2 separate regions of the Homo sapiens genome follow, and region 1 is linked to region 2. Evidence: fine-mapped expression QTL. A gene starts in region 2. The other region holds a variant in brackets. All regions are shown on one strand. Distances are between the middles of the regions.

Region 1 (16,171 bases), 30 kb before region 2:
AGCCAAACCATATCAATGTGTGTGTGTTTGCATGTGTGTGTGTGGGTGTATTGCCCACACCTCAGGCTTCAAAACCCATTAAATTTGCCACCAAATGAACAATTATTTTTCCCACTTATTGCCTGTACTTTTTCAATGAAGTCTTGACAAAGTGCAAGTTATGAACATTGGGAATGGCACACTAGTGATGGGTGTGCTTGGGTGATTGCAGTTGCCTGCAACCTAGGTTACAACCAACACATAGATACGTGGAAACTGTGGTTGTCCTGCTTGAAACAGTGAAAACTCCCCATCTTTACTAAGATTCCTGATATATTCCTATGTCAAGTACATGCCGAAGATCCTATTTATAATGCTGGAATCTGTGCTGGGCCATTCTCACTCTCCAGAGAGTGAGAAATGTATTTCAGATGCTCTTTTTTGCTGACTATCATTTAGAATAATTTCTCCATCTACAGTTAAAGAAATTTTCTAGGAACTCGACAAAGGAGCAAAGATCAAATTCCCAATTATACTGCTTCTGTCTAATTGAGGCCATCACCCAACTGGGTTACAGATTGCTAGAGAGAGCAATTCTTGTTTTATATATATTTGTTTTTCTAATTTTTCTTGCCAATCAATAAAGTTCTTTTGATTCTTTTAATTGAATGGTAAATAGTATACTTTGGAGCATATATGCACTATTATTTCTAAAACCTATGTATTCCTATTTTGCCTTCTTAATTTTAATTTTTGGTTCTCAAATATATAGGAAAAAATATGCCAATGCTATTGTTTAACATTTTCTTCCTCATAGCCTAGCCTATTAAGCATGAGGCTAACATTTTCACGCTGCCATTTTACTTATCAAATCCAAACCCGAACTGCAAAACAATAGAGTCACCAAGACGGTAAAATATAATCTCTAGGACAGTGGAGCATTATGGGTCAAAGTAGGTGATATTCACAATGGCTCTTCATCATTTGGGCTACATGAAACTGTGTGGTAAACATCACTTGCTTAGCTTTTCTTATTCAATCTGCAAAGGGAAGTTCAGACTACGGAGTCTGGAGCTCTCTGACTTACAGAAGTATCTATACAATTTACATAGTAGTGTGTCAGTTGACACAAGCTGGTATTTACATTTACAGTTTAAATGAATAACTTCTATTTCCTATAATAAGCATCTATAGATTAAATGCCACAATATGTTTTACAAACTTTGTTATTATGTATGTTGCAATAGAAGGTTCATCCCTGGAAGATTAAACACTACTTTTAAAAGTTGATGATCTCAGGAGGTCTCTTGCTTCTCCAGGAGCATAACACAGTGATAGAGTTCCTTCAGGTTTAAACTGTTTCCTCACCTGCCCAGTTTCTGAACAGGGCTGTTTGTTTCCTCTGGTTTGGTATGCAAGGGATGTAAATATTATCTAGCATTCTATTTGTTTTCTTCTGAGAACACAGCTAGTATACTTCCTTGAGAATTTAAAGTGCATGTAGCAAAAGGAGATTTCTCTCCTACATTTTTTCAAATATAACTCTGATTTGCAGTTTTAACACAGATGGAATCAGAGAATATATGTTTTATTATTTTTCTCTAAAACCACAATCGCCCAGTCTCCAAAAAGGAAGGGCTTCTCTTTTTTTCATCTACTTCACGGCCTCTTTCGCTCTAACTCCAGCTTTGTGGCTAAGTTTTGGTGAGAAGAATCTCATACACAGCTGGGAAAACTGTATGATCTTATTCTTCCAGGTTTGGTTTTTCATTTGTTTGTTTTTGTTTTGAGATGGAGTTTTGCCCTTTTTGCCCAGGCTGGAGGGCAATGGCACAATCTCGGCTCACTGCAACCTCCGCCTCCAGGGTTCAGGCAACTCTCCTGCCTCAGCCTCCCGTGTAGCTGGGATTACAGGCTCATGCCACCGTGCCCAGCTAATTATATATTTTTAGTGGAGACGGGGTTTCACCATGTTGGGCAGGCTGTTCTTGATCTCCTGACCTTGGGTGATCTGCCCGCCTCGTCCTCCGAAAGTGCTGGGATTATAGGTGCGAGCCCCAGCGCCCAGCCCCAGGCTTAATTTTTAATATGTTAAAGAAATTAAAGATATATTCTTCTGCCAAGGACCATTTTTAAGCATATGATCTTGCTTGGGCATGAGAGAGGATGTCTAAACCCTCTCAGCATACCTACTTTATTCTGCGCTGGGTCTTTTATGACTTGGAGTCAAAAGTGGAAGAATGAAGTGAAACACTTTTTTGAGAGGTAAAATTTATTGGTCTATTGTTTGCTAAAAGATTCTTCTCTCAGTAATAAATGCTGGTGGTATTTTCACCTTGAAGACCTGATAAACATCATTCCTCAGTTCATCCCAATAGCTGTTTGGATTTTCATTGGAACTGTGTGTGCTAGGGAAGGTTGTGCATTTGATTGATGCAGGCGGCCCTTCTGTTCTCTTAATTACATGTAGAGCAGCTCTGAAGAAGGAAACATCACTTGGGAGATGTGGGTGAGTCTAGGCCCATTTTACAAATTAGTGATCATTTTTGGTCCCCTAAGAAATGTTTTTATCCTCAAGTTCTTTGAAATGTCAAATCCTACCATGATTTATATTAATATAACACTGTTTTAAGACTTTAAAATTGCCAAGCACAGTGGCTCACATCTGTAATCCCTGAATTTTGGGAACCAAGGCAAGAGGATTGCTCGAGCCCAGGAGTTTGAGGATACAGTGAGCTATAATCATGCCACTGCACAGCAGCTTGGGTGACAGAGCAAGACCCTGTCTCTTAAAAGGAAAAGTAAAAAATTCAAAATTACAAAATAAAAATAGAGGAAAAAGAATAGTCAGAAGTAGTGAGTATTTCTAAATTATAGTATTCATTTCTAATACTATAATATACATTTCTAAATTAGATTAGTGTTAGAAAAACCACACATTTGAGTAATCTTAAGCATCCATACTAATTGTGGCATTCTAGTTTACTTTATGAAGTGCTCCTTTACTTGTTCATTACTTGGAAGACCTTTGGTATGATTCGAACACTTTGTTTCCTCCAGAATTAGAGTATTCAAATAGGAACCATTTTGAAGAGCTTATCTGTGTCCATCTTGGGACATTAGTATAATATCCCAAGAGTAAATATAATATTTACCCTAATATATAGGGTAAATTGTTATACTTTAAATATAACAATTTATATATAACAATTAATTTAATACAACAATTTAATTTAATAACAACAATTTAAATATAACAATTTAAATTGTTAAGGGTAAATTTTGTTATATTTTAAAAATACTTTAGTTTGAGAGCACATGTGTCTAGAATATTTACAGTGAGCCATGCCACAGAGGCTGAGTAACCTGACCTTGTGACAGAGTCAAAATTCATATTCACAATTTGTTAATCATGCGGTATAATTCAATTTTTGGCTGCTTTTGGATTTCCGGTTATTTGGAGGCTGTTTGATTGTTACTGATGGCTACAAATTATAGACTGCTTTCATGCTTGACTATTAATCTGTATATGCACACAAGTGATATAATAAATCATCTATATCTGGAAGAGATAAAATAATTTCTCCAAGTCTTTTATTTTCTAGGTGGGGCTGTTGACCTGCAAGTGGTTAAATGAGAAGTCAGGAAGGGACTGAGCCAGGACCAAAACCCAGATTCCTGATGTCTGGTCTTCATTCATGTACTCCATTCCTTCGTGGTATAGTCTAATTTCATTTGTTCACTCATCCATCCCTTCATTCCAGTGCTCTTTGTATCCAATCTTGATTATGTGAGTTCAGATTTTACTGTGAATTATTGGCAAACTGAGTGTGAGTTTGCAAAACATTTCTAAAGCCTTGCAGTGGGACACCTTTCTATCTCAATACATACAGGCAAAAGGACAGATATTCTTATGTTAAGGTGTAAGTATAAAATGCTAAGCTTTTATCCCTAGAAATTCAGCAAAAAGATACAGGACACCTTTGGCAGCCCTGGGAACAGGCCAAGTCATTCTGCTCAGCTATGAGGCCCATAGGCCGGGCCTTTCTTGAATGTCTCCTGACCCAAAGGGCAGCATGGCTCAGTGCCAGCTGATCTCTGCTCCTCCAAGGGTAATTCCCCAGCTTGGGGCAAAGTGGAGGGGAGGCCAGCTTCAAAGCCTCCTTTGGCTTGTGGAAAAGCACAGTCTGGAGTGGGACAGCTGCCAAGTTCACCATATGAACGTTCATTTTGTTTGGCTTATAGTCAAGCAACAGCAAAAAAAAAAAAAAAAAAAAAAAGCCCACAACAGCTTGGGAGTGAGTAATGGGTTACCCTGGCTCTTGGAGTTTGTCATCAGACAGGGAGAGATCTGGCCTGGAGTGCTCCAGGGGAGGCCATAGGGTTCTCAGTTGTGGATTTGTTTTCCAAGCCAACTTGTGACCCTGAACATGGATGCTTTATTGATTCCTATCTGCAATAGATCTAAGGGAATGGTTTTAAACAGGCCCTTGATTCCTTCCCTTGTGCTACTGAAAGATCACTTAATTAATATTCAACTGCAGTGTTACAGGCTGGCCATCTCCTCTGCGGGCTAGAATGGACTGAAATTTGCGATGGCAGAATAGGTCAGGATGTTATTATTATTATTAATTTCATTACTGATAGCGGCAGTGGCAACTGCAGTAGCAATAGTATTAAAGAAAACACACGGTAGTGACAAGTGAAGGATGCCAGGGAAGAGACTCCATCTAGCACTGCACAAAACCACGAGGCTCTGTATTTTCAGGCGCTGCAACCCAGGTGATCACTCAGCTGGCTTGCTTTTGCTGCTCCCTTTAAGGAAACCTGGCCTGGTGTTAACTCCAAGCTGCCCATCTTCTCCTATACTCCCTCACAATGCAAATTTAAACTTAGGGTAAAAAAAAATTGCCTTCTTAAAACAAATGTGGATTTGAGAGGTGCTCACACATGGCTGAGGCAAGATAGTTGAAATCTAAACTTGGGTTTGTTTATTTATTTATTTGCAGAAAGGAAAGAAGTCGGGTTTTAAACATGCTGACATTCTGTACTAACTTTTATGCTAAGATAATGAGGTCTGGAGAGGTCTATTATGAGAAGGGTAGGAGTTAGAAGCTCCCAAACCATGACTCTGAAGAAAGAGAATTCCTTTTGAAAGAGACTTTGTATGCTTTGAGGAAACAATGAAATCCGAAACAGAATGTGTGAATGTGTAAAGGAAGTCAAAGGAGTAGAATGAAGGAGAGGAGTGGCTTCTCTTAGCTCTTTTTGAATACCAGGAAAGAGGAGTTTTTCAGACATTTTTGTGACTAGGGTGAAATATGGGAAAACCATAATTTGGGATAGATTTGGTCCCAAGTAGGAAAGACTGTTTCCATAGTGTCCAGGTGGTTAAATGAAATCACTCTGGTATCAGCATGGAAATAACAGTAAAGGTAGATTTGCAAGGCAAGCCTTCCCAGTGAAATCCTCCCTTCTTTTCCACCCACATCCTCCTCTGTATTCCTAGAGCATCTTTGGTGTACCTCACTTATTAGAGGATATTATACTTAATTAGAGTCATATAGTACGATGTTGAGAGCATGCTCTGCAGTCTCACAGTCTGGGTTCAAATTCCAGTTGTGACTTTCAGGTGTTGATTTCTAAAGACCATTGCCTACTAAAGGGAGTCAGAATTCCTTGGGGGAAGTGGTCAATTCCAGGTGAGGAGTATATAAATATGCTTCTGGAATACACTATTGTGCTGGAAAGCAAGACATGCTCAGAAAATCATGAAGCAATGACCAATGGATAAGGAACTGTCTTGGGCTCCCTTGGGTTAAATTTGGGAAACATTTAAGCATTAAAATAATAACAATGATGAATTATAATATATTGATTTTTTGTTTGTTTGTTTTTTGTTTTTTTAGTCTTGAAACGGAGTCTTGCTCTGTTGCCAGGCTGGAGTGCAGTGGTGTAATCTTGGCTCACTGCAACCTTTGCCTTCTGGGTTCAAGCGATTCTCCTACCTCAGCCTCCCGAGTACCTGGGACTACAGGTGCCCACCACCATGCCCAGCTAATTTTTGTATTTTTAGTAGAGACAGGATTTCACCATGTTGGCCAGGATGGTCTCTATGTCTTCACCTCATGATCCACCCGCCTCGGCCTCCCAAAGTGCTGGGATTACAGGCGTGAGCCACCGTGCCTGGCTGGAAGCATGATTTTTAAACATCTACAACATGACTGTATATTATATAATTTCATCATGTACAGTATACATACATATTCATAAATGTATACATAAAATCTAATTTCTTCCTAGTTTGAGCCTTAAAAATAAATTTAAGAGGTACAAGTGCCATTCCATTACATGAATATATTGTGTAGTGGTGAATTCTGGACTTTTAGGGTAGCTATCACCCTCTAGTTTGAGTCTTTATAAAGCAAAATAAGAGAGAAAGAGAGAAGGAGAGAGAGAGAAAGAGCGAGGAAGAGAGACAGAGAGAGAGAATTACCATTGGTGACTACAAGAATATTACCACAATAGTAAATTCCCTGCATTAATGTACACTTCAACAGAGAGAGAAAACCAAGCTCAGAGAAGTTAGGACTATGATGTGGCCCAGAGAGCAGAAAACTAGAAAAGAATACCAGTTGTCTGGGTCTACAACTAGGTCACACTGCCTTGCTACATTTCCTGGAGTGTGATGGCTTTTGCGCTTCGTTTCCAGGTCTTTTTCAGTGCATGGAATAGAAATGCTGCCCTACTTTTTCTCCAAACCTGAGAATATTGAGCAGAGTCCATAGTTAAAATTAATAAAATTCAGAAATTAATTCTTATTGAAAATGCGATGATGAGAGTAATGAGATTTTGATTTTGAATTGTATAAAGGAGTAGCCCTTATGAATTATAATACTTGCATTTACTATTCCTCAAAGGAAGGAAAATCACCGTTTTACAGCCTTCCAAGACAATTTTAACTTAAACCTCTGTTTTCTTGCTGTTTGTAATAATGACCTTTCTCCTTAAGGTTTGTAATCAGTGAGTAATAGAATAGAGGAACAAAGAGTCATGTTCTAATAATTAATGCAGTGTGTAGAATCCCTTTAAGCCTGTTGCTCCCAGTTCTCCTAAGAGGGAAATGTCCCTGGCATCTCTTAAAAGAATTATGTGTTCCAATCTGGCTAGACATCCAATGTTCTTTCCTATGAGCCCTAATTTTTATTTTCTAATACACTAGTATTTTCTAAGAAAATCTAATAAAAATCATGAAAGAGTAAATAAGAAATGGAATGATCATTTCATATGAAAGCATGTACCTACCATGAGTATTTTAATGAAAGGAAATGTGCCTTCCAAATCCCAGGAGTTTCTGAGAATGTGAACCATCGTCCATGGTCTGTCTTTGGGATCTGGACAACCTGAGAGCTCCCAAGACTGAGAACCTATCATTACTAATTACATAGATGAAATATATATTCCTCTTAACTTTGCAACACAATGACAACCACAAACTCCTTTTTCAGCTCCTAAATACAGCCTCCTTAATATAGCACAGTAAGGAAAACTATATAAGTAGACCAGTTAGGTCACACGCTAATTCCATTACCTTAATTGCTTCCCCATTGTATATTGAATACCGAACTTATATATGGACTTTATTAAATACTAGGCACTGTTTAAAGCATTCCCACACTTCAACTCTTTTTAATGTAACAGAAGAGGCTAAGTAACTTGCCTAAGTTCACATGGAGCCAGGATTCACACTCAGGAAGTCTAGCTCCAGATTTCATGCTCTTAATTGTTACTCAATATCAGAGTGAAGTTCTGTGGCTTTGGTGTCTCCTTCTTTTCTTTCTTTCTTTTTTTTTTTTTTGAGATGGAATTTCGCTCTTGTTGCCCAGGCTGGAGTGCAATGGTGCAGTCTCAGCTCACCCTCACCACAACCCCCACCTCCCGGGTTCAAGCGATCTTCCTGCCTCTGCCTCCTGAGTATCTGGGATTAGAGGCATGTGCCACCACGCCTGGCTAATTTTGTATTTTTAGTAGAGATGGGGTTTCTCCATGTTGGTCAGGCTGATCTCAAACTCCTGACATCAGGTGATCCGCCTGCCTCGGCCTCCCAAAGTGCTGGGATTACAGGCGTGAGCCCCTGCGCTTGGCTTTGGTGTCTCTTTCTAACCTTGATCTCCACTACATTCCTCAAAGACCTAATGCTGCACCCATATGGATTTACTGATTCTGGCCCACATGGATCCTATCACTGGGTCTGGACATATTGTTACTACTTAAAAGGTTAGGCCTTCTTGCTTCTCTATACACATTTTCACACACATTGCCCCATCAAAGAGCTACTCTTTCTTTAGAGCTCAGATAAAGTCCTATCTTTTCTGAGAATTCCCAGATTCTTTAGACAACATTAAGTATTCCTTTCCTACACTCTGGAAGTATTACTGTTAGAACCACTATCATTGCCCCTGTTGGAATTGGTTATATTTCCGTCTTTCTTAGTAAATGGAATAAGTGGTGTGCTCCTAGAGGGGCAAGATCCTTTCTTTTCTACCTCTATAGCCCACTCAGCACCAAACACACAGTAAACATTTGCTATAGCACTGAATTGAAGGCAAATATGATGGATATTGATGTATGAATGTTCAGTACATATATGTTCACATTTCCTGTGTAGACTCTCTATGTGCATGTAGCCATTTGCCTATGGTTATGTTTAGTCACTATTCTGGATATATGTGCTTTTCACAACAAGGGAGGACTGCAGAGCAAATACTAAATACAATCTCATGTCCAGTGTGGAGGCTAAGGAGTGTTCCATAGATCATCACTTTTGTCTTAGCACAACTACTGAAATAATGAAAAAATTAAATGATTCTTGGGGAATCCTGTAGTGCCTTGCTCATACTGACCATTGTTGTTTCCTTTGGCTACCTTTGACTGTTGTGTAAATGTCAGATTTCCCCTTGTGAGCTCCTTGGAAATGACTGAGTCTTTCTTTGTAATCACTCTGCCTAATAAATATGTAATGCTGATGAATGTCAAGATGGTATCATAAAACATTGAAACATTGTGTCTATGAAAATATTTATATTTGTTGAATGAATGAATTCATAAATGCACACCCCAGGCAA[G/A]GACTGGGAGATTATCTTATTCTAACTCATTATTTCATTGCTGCAGCATCTGATGCCAAAGAGGTAAGGTCTTGCCATTGGTCCCAAGGCTGACTAGTGATGGAACTGGGATTCAAATACAAGCATTTTGCCTCATTGCCCTTGGCACTTGTTTTTATCTACATGGTAGTTTTGGGGTTGGGAAGGAAATGAAGTTTTCTTTTTAAATAATTATATAGACTAACCTACGCAGTCAAGGAACTATGTGATGGAGTTTTCTAGATAGTCCCTTCCCCTCACACACACACAAAAAAAAAATCAACTTTTTTTCAGTTTATTACCTAAAAACTTAGGGAAATGAGTACATTTCCCTGCCTAAGTAGGATATCCTGAACATAATTGAATCTTTCTTCAATAATTTAAAATCTCACAATGCTTTGGGTTTATATCAGAAATCCTTGTTACCACAGTGTAATGGAATTGATTTAGGAAGTTGGGCTAATTATTTTACCTCATGGCACATTTTAAAGATTAAAAACAATCATAGGTCCTAGTTGTTTTGTCCCCACTTGTTATCCCTACAGGCTGAGAATGTGATGGTGGCAGAGAATGGAGATATGGTAGAGGAAGAATCATTTAATTCAAGATTTTAATTAGTTGGGTTCCAGCTAGTTTAAATTTGGTGCTCTGGGGCAGGGGGCGTGGCTTGGAGCCAGTCTCATTCTGTTGCCCAGGCTGGAGTACAGTGGCTCGATCTCAGCTCACTGTAACCTTTGTCTCCTGGGTTCAAGTGATTCTCCTGCGTCAGCCTCCCAATTAGTTGGGATTACAGGCATGCACTACCACACCCAGCTAATTTTTTTTTTTTGTATTTTTAGTAGATATGGGGTCTCACCATGTTGCCCCGGCTGGTCTCGAACACCTGAGCTTAGGCAATCCACACACCTCAGCCTCCCAAAGTGCTAGGATTACAGGCGTGTGCCACTGTGCCCAGCCAAATTTTTTTTCTATAATTTATGTATTACAGAGTAATCCCAGATACAGATCCATGTGAAGTAAAATAAATACATGTGAAATTTGGAGTAGAAAGAACAGAGATTTTGGAGTCAGACAGCCGGGGCTTTGAATACCAGCTTCACACTGTCTGTGAGACAGAGAACTGGTTATCTAATTTCTCTGAAGGTTGTTTTCTTTCATACAAGATGGAGATAATTATAAGAAGCTTGTAGATGCAGAGGAAGTAATATGCTCAGTTCATACTAGGAATTCTGTAAGTTTTGGTTCTTCAAATCCTCCACCCCTTGTCTTCCCAAGTAAAAGATAAGGTAGTTTTACGATGTAATGCCATATACTGTAAATAATAGGAGTAATATAACGTTGATTTTCTATAGAACTGATTGCTCAACTAGAGTGCTCCCTAAATTAATATTGCATTTTTTTTATTTTTAAGGGAATTACAGAGACTTTTAGACATTTGTAGAATTAAGACGAAATGTTAATAGTATATATTCTTTTGGTTCCATTAATATTGTCATTCTTGACTGAAAATGATGAATCTAACAAAATGGGAGATATTGAACAAAATTAATTCTACTTAACTTTTCTTTAGCAGACTTGAGGAGCTGCCCTTGGGGTCATGTGTGAGCTGCTAGCAGAAGCTTCAAAGCTGGATGAAATGAAGAGTGATACATATTTTTACTACCAGGCACAACCATCCCATCTTGCTGTGACCCTCCATGGGTTGCCTCTCTCTGGAAAGGTGTTAAAGGGGCAGGATTCCAGCTCGAGGGTGAAAGAGAGTCATTGGTGCCTAATCCATCCTGGAACAGCCACGTGGAATTTCTCTGTGGGGGAGAGAGGAGTACAGTTTCTATGACGATCACAGCTGCTCTGCCAAGACTGCCAGTCAGGATGCCGGCACTGCTAATTGCTATGCGGACATCCGTTCATTAGACTTTGACCTAGAATTACTGTTGTCTTTCACAAGGTAGGCAATGAATCATTGTGTTTGGCCCTTGCTTCGTCTCCTTCAGCCTAGGTTTGATTTGGATCAGAAATGCAATCTCTGCAGGTCATTACCTATCTTAGGAATGTTCCTAAAGTGCATCTTTTACAAAAGGCTAGGGTTTTATTAGAAAACAGAATATTAGTTACCAGTCTAAGGGCTTAGAGGGAGCTGGTTGTAATCCAGCTCTGCCACTCTGTGGTTCTGTGATCTTGGGCAAGTTGCTTGGCTCCTCTAAGCCAGTTATCTCATCAGTAAAATGGGGATAGCAATATATGTATTCTCAGGGGATTGCTATGAGGTGTGAGCAGGGATGAGTTGGAAAAAGTCTCTGATGCCTGTGTTGGCAACCGGAATGAGAGGGGGAAACTGGATGGAGTGATACCTAGATAACTGGCACTCAAGATCCACTCATGGCCAGCCACGATTTACATCACTTGGCTCTCTCCATTAATGTTGCATCCTTAGTAATTCAGTTTACTTCTCTTCATCCTTTATCCTAATCTGTGAAGAAACCTGTGACAATCAAACAGCAATGTCAATTCAAAACAAGCTTTGTTAGTTCTCTCAGTAACCAACAAAAAGTGTTCATTTTGGCCGGGCGCGGTGGCTCACGCCTGTAATCCCAGCACTTTGGGAGGCCGAGGCGGGCGGATCACGAGGTCAGGAGATCGAGACCATCCCGGCTAAAACGGTGAAACCCCGTCTCTACTAAAAATACAAAAAATTAGCCGGGCGTAGTGGCGGGCGCCTGTAGTCCCAGCTACTTGGGAGGCTGAGGCAGGAGAATGGCGTGAACCCGGGAGGCGGAGCTTGCAGTGAGCCGAGATCCCGCCACTGCACTCCAGCCTGGGTGACAGAGCGAGACTCCGTCTCAAAAAAAAAAAAAAAAAAAAAAAAAAAAAAAAAAAAAAGTGTTCATTTTGTTTTTGTAGAACTCCTATTTTAGATTTCAACCTTACTCCCAGAATTCTAGAGAGAGAGCTACAGATGTGGAGTGCTTTACTTTGGTTATGGAGTTGGAATACGGTAGGAGGAGGTAAATGCAGGTGTGTCCCACTTAAAGAAGTAAAACCAATGACTAAGAATAAACTTTTGGGGGGGGCTTCTAATAATATATGCCAGACACTGTGGACATAGAGACAGTTATAAAAACTGGAGTCTTCATGATGAGGAAACATGCCCGTCTAACTCTATCAAGGTCACCTAAGATTTGCAAAGAAGTGGGTCAGGTTTGAATCCCAGCTTCCCTACTTACCAGCTCTCTGATGTGAACTTCTCCCATGTTTGTTACCTGCAAAATTAGACGACACCTGTAGAGTGCTTAGCACAAGGTCTGGGACTCGAGGTAAACAATATTTTCTTATCCACATACCAAATATAAATATTGTTATTAGATTCATATATGAAGCCACTGGAAATGAGTGCTAGAGTTCCTCCAGGGAACTTTTAAGAGTGAGCTGAGAATTCAGCACCACTAACCTGTGGACCATTTCTGAAGGGGCAGTGTGACAGCAGAACAATTTCCAAGTGGAATTTTGTTGATGTTGAAAAAGCAATTGGACGTGAACATAGAAAAAAATATTTGGAAATTTCTATATTTTAAAAATGTAGTGCAAATACCCAAAGGAAGTTTAATTTTTTTGCTGAAGTTATATTCTGACTTTAAATGAAATGAGTTAATTTTCATTGTGTCCATCATTGTACCCCTGATGCTGGAGCCAACAATGCCATGACTCGCTGGAAGCAGCTGTACAAGTGGAGGGATTGAGCCTTGTGTTGCTAACTGTTGCAACTTGTGATTTTTTTCTCTGTGAACATGGATCTCCTCTAAACATGAGTATTTTATTTTGCCATAATACTATATCTACCTAAATGTCGAATGTATTTTTTTCTCCAGCTGCATCAAAAACAATTTTCAATCTCCCCATACCCCTTTTCTTCTGGTGCTGTTCTCTGCCACTTACGCAAGGGACCAGAGCACAGATCCTAAGAGTGCCAGGAACAGGCAACAAAGTCTCAACATGTTCCTGGTGTGGGAGGAGATTCTATGGGTGAGTTGTCTGCCACATCTGGGGGAGGCCTGGATGATGAAAGATGGCAGCTGTAATGATGAGAGAGGAGCCAGCTTCTGGGAGGCAGGGGCAGGCTTCTCTCTTACTCCTTCCACCTCTATCCAAATACCATTTGTGTGAATCAGCTGCCACTTGGCTTTAAGGGACGTCACTGCCAGATGCTCCCGTTCCCCCTTCTTGAAGCAACAGCCACCGCCCTTCTGACCCCTCCACATGCAGTAGAAGTCTTCTAGGGCCACTTAATGGTCATGGGGTGCAAGCATAGCAGCAGGCTTTTTTCTTCCACAGAATGTGTACAGGAGTTTCATAGTGACAATGAAGGAATTGGAGCAGTCCCTGGTTGCGTCAGTGAGCATCTTTGCTGGCACTCTCTCTAACTTTGTTGAGCACTTCATGTGCGTGGGACTCTGTGCTAAATGCGTTATGTGCAACATCTCATTTATCCTCACAGCAACCCTGTGAAATGGCTACTGGGCATCTCTGGGCTTCGCAGCTGTGGCAAAGGGGAAAGGAATTCAAACTCCAGGTCCACTGTGCTGTATGACTTTCCCTTTATAAACAATTACTCCAGAATGGGAGGTCCTGGAAGATCCTGCTGTTTGTAGGTCTGAATATGGAGGTTGTAGAAGACCCTGAAGAGTCCTGAGATTAGGGTCTCTTCCCAGCTATTGGAAGTGTGAAAGTTGTCAAAGTAATCATCTTCATTTTTCTTTAAGTACCTCTTATCTCCCTGAATACACACATTGTTTACTGTGGCTCCCATACTGCAATGCCCTTTTCCTGAATAAGCACCACTTTCTTTTAGAGAGGCTTTCTCTGTTGGTTATTTAGGTTGACAGAGGGCAACAGCAGTGATACAGAGGAGCCTCTGAGACACCCGGATTTCCCTTAGAACTCTCCCATTCTCTCTGGGGAAACAGCCAGTGAGGACACCAGGTCAGAAATGACAGCCTCCTGCAATGGCTGAGCAAGTAGCCTTCAATTCTGGCACTTGCTGCGGCCAATACTTCCATGTCTTTCCTTGTGGCTGCGGCCGGTTGCTCCAGGGTGCTCTGCCTCATCCATCTGATATTGCCCTAAATATTTCTTGAATGGCACCTTAGTGTATGGACTCCATCTTATTGTTCTGCCGGTACCTGAGTCATGGCGGTGACTCAGCTGGCCCATGGTACTGCCCTCTGACTGCTGTGCCTTGCTCATAATGCCTCTCATAACCTGAATTAGTGCCCAAGAGAGCCTCCATTGGCACATGTTTGCAGGATTTTCCATTCTATACAGTCTTCCACTGTCCCTTTCCTCTTCCTCATATGCCATTTTGAAGCAACTTGGAAATTCTAGTGAGCTTTCTAGAAAGCTATAAACTCGGTATCTCTGTCCAGGTTCCCCTCATCTGTCTTACCCTTGTGGCTGCCCTCCTGACGGTTAAACTAGATTCACAAGATATTGAGATGCATGAACTGCAATATATCATTTGGGATTTTTTTGTTGCAATCAGTGGAAACTATTCCTGGCTAACTTAACACAATGAAAAGGAGACAGATGGAGGGAAGGAGGGAGGAAGAGAGAGAAAGAGTGAGAAACAGAATCAACCCCAACAATTTCCTATTCTTCTGTCATTCTACCCAATATTTAATTTTTAGGAAACAGATAGGTCTAGCTTGAACCGTGTGTCCTTGATAGGAAACTTTTGCTGACTATCCCACCAAGACTGCATGCCACGGGGATAGGACATGGCCTAAAGGAGCCATTAGAAGAAGGGAAAGTGAGTGCTACACAGGGAACAACAAACACCCACCAAAGGAAAGCGGAGGTTCCTTGAGGACCTCCTAAAGCCTCTCTAGACGTCACCGTGAAGCCTTCTCTTAGATTTAGTTTCTTCATAGCCTAGAGTTCAGCTTGGGTCATGAAAATAATTTTCTCTAACAACAAAAGTTTCTCATGAATCATAGTTTTAACTCAAATTTTAATGAGGCCAGACATTTGTTTTTATGTATTTATTTATTTTTATTTTTAACTTTTATTTTAAGTTCAGGTTTACATGTGCAGGTTTGTTATATAGGTAAACTCATGTCACGGGGGTTTGCTGTATGGATTATATTTCATTATCCAGGTTCCAAGCCTAGTACCCATTAGTTATTTTTCCTGATCCTCTCCCTTCTCCCACTGTCTACCCTTTGATAGGCCCCAGTGTCTGTTTTTCCCCTGTACGTTTTCATGTGTTCTCATCATTTGGCTCCCATTTATAAGTGAGAACATGTGGTATTTCGTTTCCTGTTTCTGTGTTAGTTTACTAACGATAATGGCCTCCAGCTTCATCCATGTTCCTGCGATGGACATGATCTCGTTTTTTTTTACGGCTGCATAGTACTCCATGGTGTATATGTACCATGTTTTTTTATCCAGTGTATCATCGATGGGCATTTAAGTTTATTCCATATCTTTGCTATTGTGAATAGTGCTGCAGTGAACATACATGTGCATGTGTCTTTATGATAGAACAATTTGTATTCCTTTGGGTTTATACCCAGTAATGAGATTGCTGGGTTGAATGGCATTTCTGTTTTTAGCTCTTTGAGGAATTCCCACACTGTTTTCCACAATGGTTGGACTAATTTACACTTCCACCAACAGTGTATAAGCGTTTCTTTTATTCCACAACCTCACCAGCACATGATATTGTTTGATTTTTTAACAGTAGCCATTCTGACTAGTGTGAGATAGTATCTCATTGTAGTTTTGATCTGCATTTTTTAATGATTGGTGATGTTGAGCTTTTTTCATATGTTTATTGATCGCATGTATGTCTTCTTTTGAAAGGTGTCTGTTCATGTCCTTTGCCCACTTTTTAATGGAGTTGTGGAACTGTACGGTGGCATCTGTGTTCTGTGAAGAGTCTAGAAGAAGAAGGACTTTTAAGAATCTGTGCACTTCAGGGCCACATGCAGAGGATTTTTGTATATCCTGTTAGTTTAGATAGTATTAAAACGTTTAGACTGACATACTTAAGG
Region 2 (15,213 bases):
TGTGTGGTGAGAACATTTAGGATCTACTCTTATAGCAATTTTCAAGTATGCAATACATTATTATTAACTATAATCACCATACTATACCATAGATCTCCAAAACTTATTCATTCTGTTACACTGTCACTTTGTACCCTTTGGCCAACATCTCCCCATTCCTGCTCCCACCCTGCCTCAGCCCCTGGCAACAACCATTCTACTCTGTCCCTGTGAATTCAACATTTTTAGATTCCACATGCAATGAGATCAGGCAGTATTTGTCTTTCTATGCCCAACCTCTTTCACTTAGCATAATGGCCTCCAGGTTTATCCATGTTGTTGCAAATGATAGGATTTCCTTCTTTTTAAAGGCTGAATAGTATTCCATTATTATTATAGTACATTTTAAAATCCATTCATCCATTGTTGAACTAGATTGATTTTATATCTTGGCTATTGTGAATAATGCTGCAATGAACATGGAAGTGCAGGTATCTCTTGACATAATGGTATCATTTCCAGAAGTGGGAATACTGGATCATATGGTAGTTCTATTTTTAAATTTTTGAGGAACCTCCACACCATTTTCCATAACGGCTGTGCTAATTTATATACCCACCAACAATCTACCAGGGTTCCCTTTTTACCACATCCTCACCAACACTTATCTTTTGTCTTTTTTATAATAGCCATTCTAACAGGTGGTTTTAATTCCATTTCCTTGGCAATTAGTGTATTGAGCATTTCTTTCATACCCTGTTGGTCATTTATATGTTCTCTTTGGAGAAATGCCTATGTAGATCCTTGGCTCGTTTGAAATCTGTTATTTGTTTTATTGTTATTGAGTTGTTTGAGTTCCTTAGAACATTTTAGAGTTTTCAACTAATGCCTTCAACTCGTTTTGATTTATCAAATTGCATCACTGTTAACATTTTTGTGCCTGGAGCCACCCCAGAAATTATTCCTGGTTCCTGGCACTTAGAGTGATTAAGTAGACAGAATGAAAGGAACAAGAATATGGACATATTAGGATTCTAGAAGATGACAGTTTTCATTTAGCTAGATGCCCTTCTAAGACTACAGTGGACCTTCTGTGTTCTGCCTGTCCAGCAATCCCTCCAGCTCAGTGCTGGTTCATAAGTTTCATTGTCTCAAGTGCCATAAGAAGTTTACACTAAACACTTCCACACAGAAAGATATAGAGTGCCTTCTTCGTGCCATCTTTCCTACTCTCATCTTTAAGTGTTAAATACATTTTCACAGGGATTTAGTTTAGGGACACTGTTTTACTCTCACCCTATAACCCCACATAAAATTTAGAAGAGTGTTTTTGTTCTTTAGAAAGTGCAAAATTAATATTTATTAAATGAGGTAGGTAAATCAGATTTTATAGGTTAGGGCAGATTGGACATTTACATATATATATGTAAATTTTCCTATTTTCTTCAGGCCTACCAATTTCATCCTATTCTCTCTTTAAAATAATCTGAATGATTATTGTTCTCTCAGAGATATCCTCTTTAGACTTATCTCTTTCTTTCTTACACCCCAATGATATATTCTGATTTAAATAGCCTAAGAAATTAGCCCCTGAGAAATGTCAGCAAAAGGAGAAACAAAGCTAGCCGAACATATGAGTTATTCCCTAAATCTAGGAAATTTCTGAAAGAACAGATGAAACGTTGTAGCCAGTGTCAAAACAAACAATGAAGCAGAAAAAGCTACTGTGTTTTCATCCTGACCAGATGAGCACTCTTGGTGTGGCCAGTGAGTCTTCCTTTTTCCATTTGTGTGTGCAATAGAAACCAGTTTATGATTTTACAGGTAACCTAATGCCAAGATTGCAAAATGGAGCATAGTCTGCAAAAATATATAATTGTGTAAGTGTCTACGTGTGCATGTGTGTGAGATTAATATGGCACATTAGGTTTCCATTTTAGTGCTTTTTAGCTTTGTCCTGTCCTTTCCCAGAAAAGCTGGTCAAGCTTTTTTGAATCACTTCTACACTGTTATGATTCTGATGATCAAAAAAGATACCCACAGGTTTTCTAAAGCACAGCATTTCACAACCTTATGTCAGTCTGAAACAAAATGAAACAAAACACAGCAAAATAAAACAAAACGGTTACATTAGAAAAGATTAAATGGAATGCTTAAAGAAATTTAGAAACATTTAAAACTGGAACATTTTAAGAATTAAAAATAAATTAAAATTGCTTTACCAAACAAATCTTGATTCTTTTCTTGCTATTTGAATAGGAATGGGGGGAAGTTTCACTCATGTAAATAAAATGTAAAATTATGTTTTGTTAATGACTTTCTGCAGGGTGTGGAACATTTAAAGTTGGCTGTGTATAAAGCCATCTTGTTGGCATCTGCTCTTAGGGATCCCTCTGTCTTAAATCTCCAGAGAGGCAGAATGACATCATGGTTAAATGTGTGAATCTTGGCATCAGGATGTTCCAGGTCCAATGCTAGCTTTGCTACTTATTGGCTATTTGAATTTAGGAAAGATAGTTGAGCTTGCTTAGAGTCGGTTTCCTCATCTACAAAATGAGGTCAATAATAGTAACACCTCAGAGAGGTTATGAGAATCAAATAAAACCATACATATGAAGTAGGTAGCTCAATAGCTAGTTGTCAGTGCTCATAATATCATCAACAAATAGCTGTTGCTGCTGTTATTATCTGATCTCAGGCATGAGGTATGAATTTAAATATATTGCATTTTCCAGGGAGAGTTTCTAATTGTTCTATAATGAATTTTAATTGTTAAACATAAATCAAGGACTTTTTTTTTTTGGTTTTGAATGTGGATGGAGGCAGGGTGCTTTCTAGTACTCCTGCATTCTCTACATGGGTAAACCCAATCTGTCCTTCTGTATCACTTTATTTTTCCAAGGACATTGTTGGTGGCAGGAATAAATCTGAGTGACATGCCAAAATGGTAAGTGAAATTTTCTCCTCTCTCATCACTACTATAATGACATGGTTTACATCCCTCTTCACCTAATTTATTCATCCACCCACCTCTTCATCCATCCAGTTATCCATCTATCCTCTACTAAGTGCCAGGCATTGGAGTAATGACATGAATAAGGTACAATCTCTGTTTCCAAGGACCTCAAAGATAGTCAGGGTTGGGGTGAAAGGAGGTTGGTGGTAGTTGGGGTCTCAGACACTTAAAGAGATAATTATTCTGCAAAGAACTTAGTAAAACGATTGTGATATACACAGGATTATATGGAAAAAGGGACATCAAGGACTTCCCACAAAAGTTTCTTTGCATTGGATTTTAAAATTCACAATCTCTGTATAAAGAACTTTCTCCCTGGCAATTTCTTCATACCAACATGCAAATGGATTTAAATATTCTACAAATTAGATTAAGGTCCTTAGTTGTTGACAGGAATACACAGAGCTATTTAGCTTTTCCCTGTAAATTTAACCTCCTTAGTTATCTTTAAAACATAACATATATGTGTATCACCACTAATGTTCTGAAAATGGACTAATGTCTAATCATGGCTTGAGAGCTGCAGAATGTTTAATGTGAACCAGACTTTGAAAAGACCCAGCTGAAGTGCAATTAACTCAGTGAGGTAAATCTTTGGAGCCTCATTTTCTGTGTGTGTTGGTGGGGTATATACTCACAGAGTGGGAAGAACACTTGTATTTCCATTTATTTCATTATTTCATTTATTTGGACATTGGTTAGTTAATTGGTCTTTTATTAATCCATCCCTTGTAACACATAGACTTACAGTCATGTTCTAATCCTCCTTTTAAAGCTGCTTCTTTGGAAGCTTTTTTTTTTGATGGAGTTTTGCTCTTGTTGCCCAGGCTGGAGTGCTATGGCACAATCTCGGCTCACTGCAACCTCTGCCTCCTGGGTTCAAGTGATTCTCCTGCCTCAGCCTCCCGAGTAGCTGGGACTACAGGCGCCTGCCACCACGCCTGGCTAATTTTTTGTATCTTTAGTAGAGGTGGGTTTTCGCCATGTTGGTCAGGCTGGTCTTGAACTCCTGACTTCAGGTGATCCACCATCCCTGGCCTCCTGAATTGGAAGCTTTATGTGTCATAAATTACCTCAAGTAAATTTCTTCTGTTAGATGGTAAGCACCATTTAGAGTATGGGTTATTGTCATTGTTTTTGTTACCTTTATTATTATAATCAAGGACTTGAACATGTCAGAAGAGAAAAGAAATCCTGTGATCCTAACAAGACCCTGCTCATTTGTACCTAATTCCAAAATCTTTAAATTCACACTGATTTGGGCACATTTATTAAAGGAACAGTTATTATAGAAATCTTACTCTACCCTCATTCTATCTCCCCAGTGTTTTTCTGGTATTTACTTTAAAGACAGTATCAAATTACCAGAAATGTAAAGCCCACATCCCTAATGTGTATGTGAAACCAAACTACATTTGATTGTAGTTGAAGGAAATTAATCCAGCAAACAGTCTGGATTTCAGTTTGCTGTTTACAATATTTGTATTTCTGCATCTTCAATTCTTTCAGAAACTGATTTATCTTCAATAGGTTATGTACCATCCATGATTTACTTCTCTTATAACATAAAAAAAGAAATACAATGAGGAATAAAGACAAAGGCCGGGCGCAGTGGCTCACGCCTGTAATCCCAGCACTTTGGGAGGCCAGGGCGGGTGGATCACCTGAGGTCAGGAGTTCAAGACCAGCCTGGCCAATATGGTAAAACCCTGTCTCTACTAAAAATACAAAAATTAACCAGGAGTGTGCCCATAATCCCGGCTACTGGGGAAGCTGAGGCAGGAGAAATCACTTGAACCCGGGAGGTGGAGGTTGCAGTGAGGTGAGATTGTGCCACTGCACTCCAGCCTGGGCAACAGAGTGAGACCCCATCTCAAACAAACAAACAAACAAAAACATTAAGAGTTGGAAGAATAATAAGAAAAAAAGTCAGTAAGGAGTGGAGAGACAATACAGATGGAGCAGGCAATGAATTAATGTGGCTTTCAGATCCTTTACTTCAGTTTTTTGGTACATTTGGCCTGATGTAGAATGTCCTACGATGTAGGATATAATTTTGAACATGGCAAGGGACCTAGTATGTGATATCCATCATCTGTCATCCTTGTCTTTCCTGCAGTTCAGGATGCCACTTATCCCATTTCCTGTTTTCATACAGTGTAGGGCTGAAGCAAGATCCAAACAACACTGTGATACAAAAGAGAAACAGAGGGCAGCCTGCTCATCTTGGAGGGCACGGAAAGACTAGCGAGACACACACAAAAAAAGCAGGCCAGGCGCGGTGGCTCACGCCTGTCATCCCAGCATTTTGGTAGACTCTTGTGGGCGGATCACCTGAGGTCAGGAGTTTGAGACCAGCCTGGCCAACATAGAGAAACCCTGTCTCTACTAAAAGTACAAAAATTAGCCAGGTATGATGGTGGGCGCCTGTAATCCCAGCTATTCGGGAGGCCGAGGCAGGAGAATCGCTTGAACCCGGGAGGCGGAGGTTGCAGTGAGCCAAGATCGCACCATTGCACTCCAGCCTAGGTGACAAGAGTAAGACTCTGGCTCAAAAAAAAAAAAAAAAAAAAAAAAAGAAAAAAGCAGATCTTTTTTCATGTGACTCTTATGCCTGTTACAAGTAATGCTGGCAAATCCTTCCTGATCTTTTCACCACCAGAAAGACAGGATAGAAAGGCAGAGAGGGATGGAGGGAGAGCAAGAGGGTTAACATAGCTTGTTCATTTATTTACTCACCAAACTAATATTTATTGTTTGTCATGTGACAGGCACCAAGGTTGGTTCTGGGAATTTGAAGATGAATGAGTTACCACCCTTGCCTTCAAGGTGTTTCAGTCTAGCAGGGAGAACGATGTTTAAACCAGTAATTAAGCTTGATACAGCAATTATTTTAATGCTGAGCCACAGCTCTGAACAGAAGGGGCGCAGATGTGGAGACACAAGCTCATCCTTTTATTGAGTTCCCTAATAAAGAGCAAGATGCTTAACTCTGTTGATCTCTAGCTTCTTCATTAAAATGGGTGGGAGAGCATCTTCTCACTTGCAGACAGTGCATGTAAAGTGCCCAGAAGAGTGCTTGACACATAGTGGGCATTCAGCAAATGGTAGAGTGTGGATGTACTACAGGGGCTATGAAGGACTCAAGGGCAGTAGGACCATAGGAGGGGTCCTGAAGTCACACGTCAGATATGCAAGAAAGAACTTCTTGCACACCGCAAGAACACTAGGTACCAGGATTAGCAAGGAGTTGCCACTGATGAGTTGGTCCCTATTTCCCAACTTGCCTTCACTAGGTGGAACATTTCCTTTAAGGTTGCAAAGGGAGGTCAGTGCGATAGCTCACACCTGTAATCCCTGCACTTTCAGAGACCAAGGTGGGCGGATCACTTGAGTTCAGGAGTTCGAGACCAGCCTGGCCAACATGGTGAAACCCCCATCTCTACTAAAAATACAAAAATTAGCCGGGTGTGATGGTGCATGCCTGTAGTCCCAGCTACTCGGGAGGCTGAGGCAGGAGAATCGCTTGAACCCAGCAGGTGGAGGTTGCAGTGAGCGGAGATCGTGCCACTGCACTCCAGCCTGGGTGACAGGGCCCTGTTCCCTGCACTGGACCCCACTCCCTCTCCCTTGTCCTCCCCAGCCTCTGCCTCCTGCTCTCACTTACTGCTCTGATGACCAGCCAGGGCAGGCCTGGAGGCCGAGGTCAGTGGTTTGTTGGGACAAGGGCTGGTTCCCAAAAAGCCCCACAAAAATTAACCAGGTGTGGTGGTTTGTGCCTGTAGTCCCAGCTACTCAGGAGGCTGAGGCCGGAGAATAGCTTGAACCCGGGAGGCGGATGTTGAAGTGAGTCGAGATCTGCTGCACTCCAGCCTGGCTGACAGAGTGAGACTCTGTCTCAAAAAAAAAAAAAAAAAAATTGTAAAGGGAAAAGACTGTAATTTTTTCCTTTAGTAAGGATAACTCAGGTGAGAAGCCCATTGCATTTTTATTGCACCAATTTCTGACACTTAAATGTCTTTCACGAGTCACCTATTGGCACTTAGCTCCTTGTTTACGTGAAGAATCCCGTGTCTCCACTAAACTCCTTCCCTTCTAGGCCTTCCATATATTTTCCTGTTGCCTTTCTATCAACTCTGTGGTTTACTATATTTGAGAAGCATTATGTTTTGAAGTCATATATTATATACAGAGAAGTGAAATAGAATATTTGGTCGTTGTTGCCACTTGTTAATGAAAAGTGGCTACTATTGGGTAATATTTATTGAGCTCTAATTATCAGGCACCACACATTCTATGCATTGTATCAGTGCTTCTTGGCTTTTGATGGAAATACATGGGATATGGAGATCTTAAAATTCAGGTTCTGGTTCATTCAGTATGAGAGTAGAGGCCAAACGTCTACAGTGCTGACAAGTTCAAGGGTGATGCTGCTGTCCACAGGCTGCATTTTGAATAGCAAGACATTGTACCATTTGATCCTGACAACAACCCTATTAGTTAGAAATTACTTCTTATGGCCAGGCACGGCGGCTAACGCCTGTAATCCTAGCATTTTGGGAGGCCGAGGCGGGCGGATCACGAGGTCAGAAGATCTAGACCATTCTGGCTAACACGGTGAAACCCTGTCTGTACTAAAAATACAAAAAAAATTAGCCGGGCGTGGCGGCCGGCGCCTGTAGTCCTAGCTACTTGGGAGGCTGAGGTAGGAGAATGGCGTGAACCCGGGAAGTGGAGCTTGCAGTGAGCTGAGATCGCGCCACTGCACTCCAGCCTGAGCGACAGAGCGAGACTCCGTCCACCCCCCACAAAAAAAAAAAAAAATTTCTTATTTCGTATCTATGGAAACTGAACTGTAGAGAATTTATCCAAGGTCATGTTGCTAGAAAGCAGTACAGCTCGGGCTCTAAATCCAGATTTGCGTCCTGGGATAGTGTATATAATGTGGATTTTGGAAATATTCTCCAACATCCAAAGGTGATCTGATGCTACCTGAAAAAAATTCATAGTTTTAGTTTAAATTTTGACCCGTTTAATGAAATTTCTTTTTAATTTCTCTTTATGAAAGACTGTGTTAAATGGTGATTCAAATGTGTTGGATTTTGCTTCTAAAGGTATGTAGAGATTAGTATGATTTATTTGCCAAAATTATGGCCTAGAAAATGTCGTGCTATTGATGGAATCCGCATTGAACACAAGAGGAAATTGCTAGGGAAGGATGCGTGTGAGGAAAGGAAATCCTCAGGCTGATTTATTGTTCAGCGCTGAGTGTAAACAGTGTGCTATCCTTGTCACAGCCAAACGAAAAAGGACGCAATCACTATCCTGAACAGATCATTCTTTTAAAAATAATATTTTGGCCTGCTTATAAAGCATGGTTCGTAATAAAAAATTTGGGCTACAGAAATATAATACAATTAAATTATCCAAACTCCCATCTTTTTGTTTGTTTGTTTGTTTGTTTTTTGAGACAGAGTCTGGCTCTGTCGTCCAGGCTGGAGTGCAGTGGCTGGATCTCAGCTCACCGCAACCTCCGCCTCATGGGTTCAAGCGATTCTCCTACCTCAGCCTCCCGAGCAGCTGGGACTACAGGTGCGTGCCACCACGCCCGGCCAATTTTTTGTATTTTTAGTAGAGACGGGTTTTCACCGTGTTAGCCAGGATGGTCTCGATCTCCTGACCTCGTGATCCGCCCGCCTCGGCCTCCCAAAGTGCTGGGATTACAGGCGTGAGCCACCGCGCCCGGCCTATTTTCTAATTTTAAGTGAATGCATCTCAAAAGGGTGACGAAGGACCACATTCCTATCGAACAGCAATAATTCACTGTGGCAATATCTTGCCACAAATAATTTAAACATTAATTGTGGTTTTGAGGGGCAGTGTGCAGTGGGAGTAAAAGGGGTAGGGTTTAGAGTCTCCAAAAGATTTACTTAAGAAACACGAATGCACTGCTTGTGCACTGCGCAAAAGTTCTGGGGTCAAGTTCCAACTTTCACTAAGGATCCCAGAACAGCCCGGCAGGAGCTGCCCAGGGCTAACGCGCTTTGCTCTCAAACCCGGCCGCCAGTCGCCGACGCATGCGCAGTCTAGCACCGTGGCACAGGCCTTTCTCAAGCAGGTTTTTGTGGGGTCAGCAAAAGGGCCAGAACAGCAACGGCAAACAGTTCCGAGCCTGACAGTGCAGGGGCAAACCAGCTCCAAGTGAAAATCACCTCGCGAGGAAATAGGCTCAGGGATCGGGGCGGTTTCCGCAGGCGTCTCCACACACGCACTCTCACTCACTTTGAGGGTGCCAAAACACCACTAGGGGCAACTAGGAGGAATAGGCTGAGGAATCAGCTATAGAGAATGGAGGGGATAGAGCTGCAAGGGGCGAGGGGGCGACGATCTCTAAAACTTTCAGCGCCGTGCTCTACTGATGCTCTAGGCACTTTTTTCATTGCTCTGGGGAGTCTGGGTGCCCCAATTAATCCGTCGCTCCTTTGAGCATTTGTTGTTTAGGGGGTCCTGGGGGACCCCATCGTATTACAGTATTCAGCCACACTCCCCGCAAAGCCGGGAAGCCGCCCCGAGAGAAGACCCCAGGACGCCGGGGGCTGCGTGAGCCCCGCAAGGCTGCAGGCGGGGGCGCGGGATCCCCTTTCTGGCCGCCGCCCCCCTCCGCCGGCCCCTCCCCCGCGCCCCGCCCTCGGCCACAGACCCCAGCCCCGGCCGCCGGCGCGCTCCCACCCGCGCGTCTGGGGACTTGCGGACCGCAGCGAGACCGGCCGGCGTGCTGGGCATGCTCAGTGGCGGGCCGGGCGCTGGAGTCGGAAGCCTGTGCGCGGCAGCCGCCGCCGAGCCGGCCGGGGCGCACGGAGAGCGCGCGGGACTCGCTGCAGCGGCGGCCGGGTCGCGGCGCACCCGGGCCGGGACCGGAGCCGAGCCTAGCGCGGCGCCCGCGACCCGTCAGCCGCGGCTCCTGCTCCCTCGATCCCGCGCGGGGAAAGGGCCGGCGGCTGTTGGCGTCGGCGGGGCGCGGAGGAACCGCGGCGGCGGCGGCGGCGGCCGCATCCTTGCCGCCCGCCCCGGCCCAGCCGCGTCCCGGAGCCGTCGGGCATGGAGCCGTGGAAGCAGTGCGCGCAGTGGCTCATCCATTGCAAGGTGCTGCCCACCAACCACCGGGTGACCTGGGACTCGGCTCAGGTGTTCGACCTTGCGCAGACCCTCCGCGATGGAGTCCTGCTCTGCCAGCTGCTTAACAACCTCCGGGCGCACTCCATCAACCTGAAGGAGATCAACCTGAGGCCGCAGATGTCCCAGGTGAGGAGGCCGGCACGGGCGCCCCGCCTCCAGCCGGCAGCTCCCATTAATCATGCGGCTAATTTCTTTGTGTAAATGCAAACGTCTAGGTGCGCTGAGCTTGCCCTGCTTCCCAGCCTTCTGCTTTGGGACCACTTCGGCACCACTTTGGCGTTTCCTACCTTGGCTTGAAATGGTTTAGCTCCTCAAGCTGAATGCGAAAGCTTTGCGTCCGGAGATGGTGTGAGGATTTCGTAAAGGCTTTCTGTGAGGCGGGAAAGAAATAAGTTGTCTTAGGGTGCCCTTCACCTACTCTGCGTGTGTGTGGCGCGACAAAGGGAATTTGATCAAGCTCTTCTATAATAACGAAGGGGAGGGACGAAACGAGGTGATGGGGTAATTTGCCTTTAGTCTCTTCTTTTGCTTTGCGTCTTGTACTCATGTTTTCCTAAAAGAGGAACCATGACATACATGAGGACTCGAGGAAGTGAAGGGCGTTTGGTCCCGTTATCTGTCCAGGAGTGACATTGGTCAAAGGGAAGAACAGGGAGCAGAACCCGGAGGCCGCCCCCAGGGCCCCTGAGCTGGTGGCCAGCCGGCAAGCTCCCGTTTACAGCTCTTCCTAAGCCATGTGAGAAGGAGCGAGTCCAGCCTCTCTCAGCAGCGACAGGAAATGAGAAGTTTCACTAGAGATTCCGCTTTCCTTCCTGCAGTGCCCTGCTCAGGTGCTGTGGTGCCGGTCGGCTCCTGGGGCTGGAGCTGCCTCTTTGAGGGTTAAGCCAGACACCTCTGGAAGGTTGGGTGCACCCTAGAGTCAGCTCAAAAGTCACAGTTCAGTGGAAGAGTAGTTTATTTGTCCTGTCGGAAAATTTTTGTACAGAAGGATGTTAAACTCGGTTCAGAGCCTCTTTCTCTTTCAGAATGTTAAAACAAAACAAAAAACCAAACTGCTTTCAACTTAAAAGGGAGAGGACAGAGCCCTCTCCCTGACACATTTCAGCACTAATCCTCTATGACGCAGAGCCTCAGCTACTTAGCAACCAGAGCAGCGCCTTTTAAGAAGGAACGGACTTTATATGATTTAATAAGTATGTATTTAAAGTTAGAGCACACACAGTCATCTGTGATTCTTGGTGTCAGTGTTTCATCAGGGTCCCCTGCACTTCAGATTCTGCATTCCTTGCCTGTTTGCCTTCAACCTGCTGGTGGGCAGTCCCTAAGAAAGAACAGGCATGGAAGTGGGGAGAGCCATACGTATTTAAAAGTGAGGTAAATTATTTTATACCCCCATAAACATGCATGGTGATTGCTACCTCTCGGTACCCCTTCAGAGTTGTCTCAACTCTGGAAATTCCTTTGAGGGGTTTGGCAGACTTTTCTATTATGGTGGGAGCTGCAGTTAGCTACTCTCACACATCCCCATTTTCCACTTTGCCTGTAGCCTCAGGAGGCAGCGTGGGTCAGGATGCCTTGGCCCACCAGTAGGGAGTACAGTACTGTGCACATTTCCTGGAACTTGTTTCCTGGAACTCTCAGCAGTTGCTCTCAATAATCACGTTTTCTGGACAGCTGAAGACCTTTTTAAACCTCGAAGCCTTTATTTGAATGCTAACAATGGATGAGAATCGTTTTGAATGTGTTTCACTCTTCTCCTCTTATGTTAGATGTAATTTAATCTTTCTGATGACCAAAGATTGTCATTATAAGCATCATTAATGAAAATTGAGCACATACAATGCTCTAAGAGTTCTGTTCCCTAGTGGGGGTAGCAAAATGAGCACACCAGGATACTTGCCCTAAAGGAATTATTACACTATGCTATCAGATGGTAAATCACTGGGTTATAATAAGGTAAGTAGGACAGCTAATGACCTTCTTTGTGCCGTTGCACTTTTGAGTTCTTAAGTCTGTTCAACCTTGAGGTTTCTGGTTCCAAATTAAGTACAGTTTCTCCTGTAATGTCCTATGAGAGGGTGCTTCCCTCAAATGTGAATCCTAGAAGGCTAGTACCTGAGCCTGGTGATGTCTGTTTTTGCTTTCCTCATGGTTCTTGGCCTCATTGCAGAGAGGCAAGGCTGCTGAACAAGTGGATGCTAGGCCGATGAGTTTGTATCATGCAGGTTGTCATTAAATCCTTTAATGAGACTTATGAAATGATTTTATGAAACAACTTGACGTATTTAACATGCTTATAGTGCCTAGCACATGTACTTAATAAATGTTTACTATTAGCAAAATTATGAAAAACATTTTTTCTGCTATTGTTATATTAAGAGTAATAGGTTCCAATAGAAATTTTAAAACAATTGTAGAGGCCTACCGGTTCCTTTGGGCTGATAACCCTAGACATTTTGCCGCTAACTACTCATCTCTTTCTTGGGAAAGGTTCTAGCTGTAGTGAATACACTATTAACCTGGTACAACCCTGTCATGTCCCAGCAGAATGTATTCCCCTGGAGTTAGAGATGTCATTACTAGTACTTGTGGCGTTTTGGTATGTCTGAGAGTCGTTCTGTCTACTTAGATTCTGTTGAAGATATTAATTTGAAATAGACTATTTTTTATAGCACATGATCTCCTAACCTGAGAAATAACTGGAAGCTGTCACTTCTGACTTTTGTGACATATTGAGACTGTAAAGAGCAGATGTTGACAAAAGAAATTTTAATTTATTGATGTTTTGTTTGTAGCCTGTTTAGCTTTCCTGAAAGAGGCTATAAAATGACCAGCCTTTTAAAATGAGTGTTTATTCCAGTGAGTGGGATGCCTTTCTATTCTCTGTTAGCCTTCTGCCTTGTTTGCATTTAAAAAAATAAATAACTGCAAATAATGACTGCTCAATTATAGGTTTGAATCTTGGAATCTTAATAAGTTAGTTGATTATCTTTCAAAATAAAAGCATGGATGGGATCCCAGTTTTCTTACTTATTGTTCTTTCTGGCTGTTGACATCAGTTTGTTTTTGATCTTGCCATCTTGGTAAGAGGATGATCTTCAGTTCAAAAATAAGTATATTTTTTCATGCTGATTTAGTGTTTGTTTTTATTTATGATAGGTTAAAGAGGTAAACATTAATCATATTTAGTTATACATTTAACATGTTCCTCTTATTATATAATACAGTTAAATAAAATGCAGTTGGCCAGTGAATATCTAAGAAATTTGGTGTCTGTATATGTTAGATTTTAGTGTCTATATTTGAGATTTATTTTTCATCTGAAACAGTATTCTAGCCAGGACACAAAGCATGTGAATGATTCTGGAAGAGAAGAGCCTACTGGTGATAGCTGTACTGGGTGGGCGGCACATGCTGGGGTTGGGGCTGGGGGTGTGCCTGTGGAAGGGCATGAGTTATTGGCTTGATGTCACTTTTAGTGGTTAAGAAGATCTTCATGAATGCCTATAACCACCCCTAGATCTATCATGAATGAGAGTACCTTAGTCTTAGTTTGAAACTTAAAATTTTGCTTTATACTATGCTTTATAGTAGGGGTAATACAGTCAATGAGTTTAGTGGCCACTATGGACAGTGTATGTAAACTTTGAATTGTTTAAATGAATAATTCAGACTTCAAGGATTCCTTCAATGAATATTTACTTGGTCCTACTATGTTCCAGGCGCTGTTTTAGACACTGTCTTGGACAAACTCAACAAAGTCCCTGCCCTAAAGGGGTTTGGATTTTAGTAGAGTTGAACCATAAATAAATGACTGTATAATTTATTTATATATTTATATTTTTACATACAATTTATTGTATATAATTATTTATATATTTATCTATAATGTGCTATGAACCCATTTGAAGCTGAGTTAGGAACTAGAGAGAAATGTAATACAATTTTATAGAAGGTAGTCAAGAAAGTCCTCTCCAAGGGAGTGACAATTAGGTGGGACCTGAAGCGAGTGAAGGAACACAGGAATGTCAATGTTTGGAAAAAAGAATATTCCTGGTGGAGGGAATACCAAGTGCAAAGCTCCTGAGGTCATTAAGTGGCAGGCATACTGGAGGAACAGCAGGGTCAGTGTGGTTGGAGGAGAGTGAGTGTGGGAAAGAGTGGGAAACGTGAAGTCAGAGAGAAAATGGAAGCTCGATTTTTAGGACTTGTGGGCCACTTTAAGGACTTTGGATTTCACTTTGAGTGAAATGAGAGGTCAACAGAGGGATGAGGAGAGGAGTGACATGGCCTGATTTACCTTTCTTTTCTTTTCTTTTTTTTTTTGAGACGGAGTCTTACTGTGTAGCCCAAGTTGGCGTGCAGTGGCCTGATCTCAGCTCACTGCAACCTCCGCCTCCCAGGCTCAAGAGTTTCTCGTTCCTGAGCCTCCAGAGTAGCTGGGACTACAGGCACGTGCCACTACTCCCGGCTACTTTTTTGTATTTTAGTAGAGGGGGTTTCACCATGTTGCCTAGAGTGGTCTCCAACTCCTGAGCTCAGGCAGTCCACCCGCCTTGGCCTCCCAAAGTGTTAGGATTACAGGCATGAGCTGCCACGCCCAGCCCTGATTTACCTTTCCTACAGTTACTTTGGCTACTGCATTGAGAACAGACTGGAGAGCAGCAAGGATAGAAGTGGCCAGGCTAATACATCATTCAGGCAAGAGATGATGGCGGCTTTTACCAAAGCAATAGCAGGGCAGATGGTGGGAAGAATAGGCTCTGAATATATTCTGAAGATGGAGCCAGCAGGGGTTTATTGATGGACTAGATTAGGGATATGAGAAGAGAGGAGTCAAGTATGTCTCCAGAATTTTTGCCCTGAGAAACTGGATGATGAAGTTCCCATTTACTGAAATGGAGAGGACTAGAGGAAGTATGGTGTTGGGGTGTATGTGGGGAGAGGGGAAGGAATATCTGGAGCTAGTTATGATTGAAGTGCCTAGTAGACATCTAGATGGGTACGCCGAGCAAGTTGGAGGAGTTGGAGATGTAGGTATA

Alleles and levels. Positions count from the first base shown, and alleles are read on the strand shown. Sizes are in standard deviations (SD) of each study's normalised expression.
For the expression in spleen of the gene that starts at base 10,520 in region 2, allele A in region 1 goes with a lower level than allele G (small effect, 0.39 SD a copy in GTEx).

What was found.
Region 1: its variant is fine-mapped to the expression of VAV3-AS1 in spleen (GTEx, PIP 0.97).

Annotation. Positions count from the first base shown.
Region 1 is chr1:107,988,938-108,005,108 of GRCh38, reverse strand. VAV3-AS1 (VAV3 antisense RNA 1) reads right to left here. Exons shown (of 3, transcript NR_046653.1): 2 at 11,474-11,604; 3 at 10,502-10,927. Among named protein-coding and RNA genes, the nearest start is that of VAV3, 32 kb to the right of the region's middle. The variant G/A (reference allele first, on the strand shown) is at 9,105.
Region 2 is chr1:107,959,750-107,974,962 of GRCh38, reverse strand. It overlaps VAV3-AS1 (VAV3 antisense RNA 1), which reads right to left and starts at 10,520. Exons shown (of 3, transcript NR_046653.1): 1 at 10,459-10,520. VAV3 (vav guanine nucleotide exchange factor 3) reads left to right here and starts at 9,783. Exons shown (of 27, transcript NM_006113.5): 1 at 9,783-10,297. The coding sequence starts at 10,094. RefSeq lists enhancers at 8,997-9,066, 9,002-9,296, 10,643-10,772.